Regions from separate parts of the Homo sapiens genome. Here region 2 is linked to region 1. Evidence: fine-mapped expression QTL. A gene starts in region 1. The other region holds a variant in brackets. All regions are shown on one strand. Distances are between the middles of the regions.

Evidence for each region.
Region 2: its variant is fine-mapped to the expression of IL6ST in whole blood (INTERVAL, PIP above 0.99).

Annotation. Positions count from the first base shown.
Region 1 is chr5:55,993,633-55,996,541 of GRCh38, forward strand. IL6ST (interleukin 6 cytokine family signal transducer) reads right to left here and starts at 1,331. Exons shown (of 17, transcript NM_002184.4): 1 at 1,152-1,331. It overlaps IL6ST-DT (IL6ST divergent transcript), which reads left to right and starts at 1,535. Exons shown (of 2, transcript NR_102755.1): 1 at 1,535-1,922. RefSeq lists cis regulatory regions at 99-2,417, 1,111-1,784, a silencer at 1,062-1,541 and an enhancer at 1,373-1,884.
Region 2 is chr5:56,158,251-56,161,159 of GRCh38, forward strand. ANKRD55 (ankyrin repeat domain 55) reads right to left here. Exons shown (of 12, transcript NM_024669.3): 6 at 1,583-1,643. Among named protein-coding and RNA genes, the nearest start is that of ANKRD55, 74 kb to the right of the region's middle. RefSeq lists an enhancer at 1,814-2,609. The variant G/C (reference allele first, on the strand shown) is at 1,568.

The sequences.
Region 1 (2,909 bases):
TCTCCTTCCTGTAATTTTTTTCTTTCACTCAAGATTAAAAACAAACGTTCAAGATTATCCCTAAAGAGAAATAGTTGGAAAGCACAATTTAATAGCAAGTTGGTTCTATAAATGTAATATTTCAGTTCATAGTTCAAAAATACTTCCAAATAGGAATTAACATGAATTTAAGAAATTAACATAATGGCACACAGCTAAACTGATGATCTGAGTCCGTAATTTCAAATTAAGAGTTGTTCCAACTTGAAGCTGGCAGTCATACACAGTTTAAAGGGTTTGTTTACAGCACTGTCAAAAGCAAATACCACAATCTTTCAGAAAATTCACCCTGGCATTCTAATAACTAGTTATTTTAAGGCAGTATAATTGTTGAAATACTTCACAAACTAAGCCAAAATGCGTTTCCTTCTGAAGGCAAAAAAAAAAAAAAAAAAAAAAGGTGACGTCTTATTTTTAACCTGTGATTTTTTTTTTTTTTCAGTTTCGGATTATGAAATAAAATGCTGTTCATCCACTGAAGAACAGACCCTTGCTTCCTGCACTATCTTCAAAAGTTTAGGTCGGAGGAGGTAAAATTTTAAAAACTGATTTGTTCTCCTTGGGATACAGTGAGATGTGGAATTCGTTAGGAATGATAATTATTAATAGAAAAGATCAAAAGAAGGAAAGAAACGTTAATAGTGTTTATAAGCATTGTGAACTTTCAACAAAGCTGAAACGTTACGATTTCAAGATGAAAAAACGGCTTTGGGGAAGGGAAATCCACCTCGAGAATGAAGACAAGTGCGGAGCGAATAGAATTTCAGGGGAGATGAAAAGGGGATTGGGAAAAACGTGGGATCTGGTAACAAAAAGGGGGGTTTGTTCTTGAAGGGCGTTCTGCGGGGCGGGCGTTAAGAGGGGTGCGTGCGTGCGCCTGGGTGAAGTTTGTACTCAGGGCTGCGATAATCGAGGTGACAAAGTTGTGGAAGTAGAATTCGGAGGTCCGGGAGCAGGAAGGGGAAGGAATGTGGGGATTTCCAGGCTGGGCTGACAAGTTCCGGGCGCTGCTCTCAGGGGGAAGGGAGGTCTCCTCGAGTGCCAGATAGCCCGTCCGAAACCACCGACACTCTAACTCCAGCTACGCGACCCAGCACCCGGCCCCTCCTCACCTCAGGCCGCGCCGCCTCGACCCTCCGCGTCTCCACAGCGCACGAACCCCTTGGCGCCAGGCTGGGCCAGACCCGTCGGCCTGGCAGGCGCGGCCCCCGGTTCAGCTGCGCCGGGGCGGCCCAGCGCGACTCCGCGGGCCTTTTGGCTGCTCGCCCCGGCTCCGGAACACTGTCAGATCCTTCTCCGCAGAGGTAGCGCGCCACCCCAGTCCCGCGGCGGGGCGGGGCGCTCCCCAATCCCGCCCAGCTGCGCCCCCGGCCGGCCAACGCTGCGCCCCGCCCCCTACCGGGACCTAGGCGCTGATTGGCCCCTGAGAGACCCTTTGCGCCCAGGCATTGGTCCAGTGGCCGCCTGTCGACGAGGGGGCGGGACTCCGAGGGGTAGCGATTCCCGTAACGCGGCTCTTCGCGTCCCGGATTCCGGTGGCTGCGTCCGCGTCGCCTCTCCCAGACTAGATCGAAGGGTTCCCCCCACCTCCCCTCTGTGGGCGGAAAGAGCGGAATGTTCCATTTTTCTGTGGAATAACGGGGTCATGAACTGGAGCCCGGGTGCTGCCCGCCGCCCGCTGCCCCCGCCCTCCCTTCTCGCCAGGGCGCCTGCGGCCTCTCTTCGCGGCCTTCCCCGAGGGACTCAGAGCCGCGAGGGACCGCCTAGCTCCCTTGGGGATGGGGAAGGCGTGGGAGCCTCTTGGGGAAAGTGAAGAGCTCGGTGGCCGTGACTCCGCACGAGACTGCGGCAGATTGTGGCGGCGGCTTCTCTCCAAGACTTACGTAAACGAGCCTTGCCACAGTACTTTTTTAAATTAGTAAATGAGTTTGGGTGCGATTGATCAGTGAGCCCCAGAGGTGGTGGCCCACCAAGCGACTAGTGTTTCTTTGCGGTTTGTACCTCCCCGTTTATGATAAAAAATACCGGGTAAAAACCTATTCATCCCGCCTCCGCCCCCCCCTTTCCCTCAGAAAATGGACCTCAAGGCTCATGATGTTTGTTTCTCCCCAAAGGAAGATGAGAATCTTGAGTTAAAAGATAAGGCATGTGCGTGCGTGCGTGTGGGGTGTGTGCGTGGGTGTCTGTAAAAGTAAACACCCAAAGGTAGAGGTTTTTGTGGAAGAATGAGAGGATATAGGAAGGAAATAATGGTTTAATGAACTTAAATTATATCCATAAATTAACAATTATAAAGTTCTTCATTATATTGAGGATTCAGATAGAGTAAAACATAGATCGAATTTTAATCTCTTAGTTGTTGATCAGATAATTTATAAAAGGGCAAAGTGGGCCTGCTAACGGAGTCGCAGGCAAAGTAGATGGTGCTGCAGCTGATGTGTTCAGCTCTTGCTCCTCCCTGTCATCCTATATCTAACCTATAGATTGTGACCAGATTCTGTTCTAGCTTTGCCATTTAGAGGGGTGTTTATTTTAAAACAAATTTTTATAAAAATTTGTTAAATTGAAAATTTTGTATAGATCCAGGAAACTTGATTTTTTTGTTGTTGTTCACAGTCTCACTCTGTCACCCAGGCTGGAGTGCAGTGGCTGGATCATGCTCACCGCACGTTCAAATTCCTGGGCTCTAGCGATCCTCCCACCTCAACCTCCCAAGTATCTCAGACTACAGGTGCCCCTACAATACCTGGCCAATTTTTAAAATTTTTGGAGAGACAAGATTTTGGTATGCTGACCCGGCTGGTCTTGAACTGCTGGCAACAAACGATCCTCCGGCCTTAGTGGCCTCCCAAAGTGCTGAGATAACAGGT
Region 2 (2,909 bases), 160 kb after region 1:
CCTTGCCTATGGTCACCTAGCTTCCTTGAAAATAATGTAATCGGCATCTTTGTGTATGTACATTTTTAATGTTATCAGACTTTCTTAGTGAAATGCAACCAAACCAAGCACATATTTACTTTAAAATTCCATTGAAAACCAGGTATTTAAATTGATTTTAAGAACCTTGTTAAGGAAATCAGCCTGGCTAAGGAAAATTAGTACTGCATTTTAAAAGAGTTAAGCAGATCTAACAAGACTCTAAGCTACTCTTGGACAGCTCTGCTTAGTGTCTGAGCCACCTTCCCTCAAGAACTTTGTTGAAGAGTGTTGAACGACCTTTTTGGAAGCCTTCTACTTGCAACATGAATTAAACAGCAGTTACGATCACTGGGATTAATAATGTGATGTCTGGAGCAGGTAACCCGGAATTATTAATATTATCTCTCTGTCATCTTTTTCTTTTCTTTTTGGAGGGGAGGGGGACAGGATGTCACTCTGTCACCCAGGCTAGGGTGCAGTGATGTGATCATATCTCACTGTAACCTTGAACTTCTGGGCTCAAGTGATCCTTCTGCCTCAGCCTCCAGAGTAGCTGGGACTATAGGCATGTGCCACCACACCCAGCTACTTTTTAAACTTTTTGTAGAAATGGAGTCTCGCTCTGCTGCCCAGGCTGGTCTCAAACTCCTGGGTTCAAGTGAGCCTCCCACCTTGGCCTCCCAGAGCACTGGGATTACAGGCATGAGCCAGTGTCCAGTCTTGTCATTGTTTTCCTTTTTCTTTCTTTTTTTTCTTCAGAGAGGGGGGTCTCACTTTGTTGCCAGGCTGGACTCTCAAACTTCTGGGCTCAAGTGATCCTCCCACCTCAGCCTCCTGAGTAGCTGTGACCACTGGCACGCGCCACTACACCCACCTCTCTGCCATCTTACACGAGAGAGCATGTCTTAGGCTGAGTGCAGTGGCTCATGCCTGTAATCCCAGCACTTTGGGAGGCCGAGGCAGGCAGATCACCTGAGGTCGCGAGTTTGAGACCAGCTTGACCAACACGGAGAAACCCCATCTCTACTAAAAGTACAAAATTAGCCGGGTGTGGTGGCGCCTGCTTGTAATCCCAGCTACTGGGGAGGTTGAGGCAGGAGAATCACTTGAATCTGGGAGGCGGGGGTTGCGGTGAGCCAAGACGGTGCCACTGCACTCCAGCCTGGGCAACAAGAGCGAAACTCCATCTTAAAAAAAAAAAAAGAGAGCACGTCTTGAGCCACCGCTTGCTACTAAGTTTCTGGGACTTGAGAAGACAGGAGAGAGCAATATTTATTTCTCAATGTCCAGAGGGAAGTTACAAAATTTCAGTCGTATGATAAATGCTGAAGTACTTAATGCAATAAAGTCCTTCCCTATCAGAAGCTACACACACCCATGGTGGGGATAAGTTTCTGCTGAGGATTAATAGTGAAAACAGGTCTCCCTTTCAGGGTAGGAACACAGAACCATGCCTCATGTCTCCCCGTAGCTTTTAAGAGGAAGCACAATGGTTCAGAAACGCCCTTCCTTTCACCCTCACATGCAAAATGACCACTTGTTGCTT[G/C]AGAGTGTGGCTCACCTCATTGTCCTGGTGATTAATCTCGCTGATGTTCGACTGTTGCAACAGGACCGTGAGGAGCCTGTAAGGAAAAAATAGGAGAAATGGCTCAAAATAACAGGCAGTCACGGTGCTCTTGGAATCGGTATAAAAACATGACCTTAGAAAAACCGTCAGTTGAAAGACTCCAAATGAAGATGAGGGCCCTTTCCGTTTCTCTGGGAAAAAGATCCACAGAAAAGAAGCAAGAGTGTGATAGGTTAGAAGACACCTGTGTGGAGGGCTACTGTCTGCCTCTCCCACCCTCTCTTCATCTCAGCACTCCCGAGGGGCACAAGGGGATGGAGAAACTTTAGGCTCATTGTGTTCACCAGGCCTCTGTCTCCTAGCCATGCCCTTTAAGATCCAAAATCATGTAGCAATTATTATTATGATTTTTTTCTTTGAGATGGAGTCTCGCTCTGTTGCCCAGGCTCGAGTGCAGTGGCACGAACTTGGCTCACTGCAAGCTCCGCCTCCCGGATTAGCACCATCCTCCTGCCTCAGCCTCCCGAGTAGCTGGGACTACAGGCGCCCCGCACCACGCCCTGCTAATTTTTTCTATTTTTTAGTAGAGACGGGGTTTCACCGTGTTAGCCAGGATGGTCTGGATCTCCTGACCTCGTGGTCCGCCCGCCTAAGCCTCCCAAAGTGCTGGGATTACAAGTGTGAGCCACCGTGCCCGGCCACTTATTCTTTATTCTTTATACACACATGCCTAAGCACAAGATTCACTTTATAGAAACTTACAGAGTGCTTTCGACCTGCTTCACTCCTAGCTGCATATGTCATGCCTTTTTAATGCATAGATTATACCAGGAGGTTGTCAGTATTTGCAAGTTTGCTCATTCTTTGTAAAATACACACATGCCTAAGCACAAGATGACAGTAATCAGTGTAAAACAGCTATCAATGATTCTCAGATTCAGGCTCTTACCTGACTTGGATCTCCTGCTCAGTTGACTGAAGTCAACGCTCCATCTGGGAGAGGGGGGCAGCCGAGCATAGTGGAGAGGGGCCCGGGCTCTGCAGCCAGATGGCTTGGGTTTACATCCCAGCCCTGCCACTGATGAGCTCTGTGACCTCAGGCAAGTTACTTACCTTCTTCCTGCCTAAACTTCCTCATCTGTGAGATAGGAGTGATAAAAACTACCTATCACACAGCTCAGTGTGAGGATTAAATGAGTTAATATGCATACAACATATAGAGCATGCCTGGAACATGCTGTTATTTCTAGAGTGCTTAACCCCAGAAGTTTGGACCCTGGCTCCATCTCAGAATTGCCTGGAGAGATTTTTTTTTTTTTTA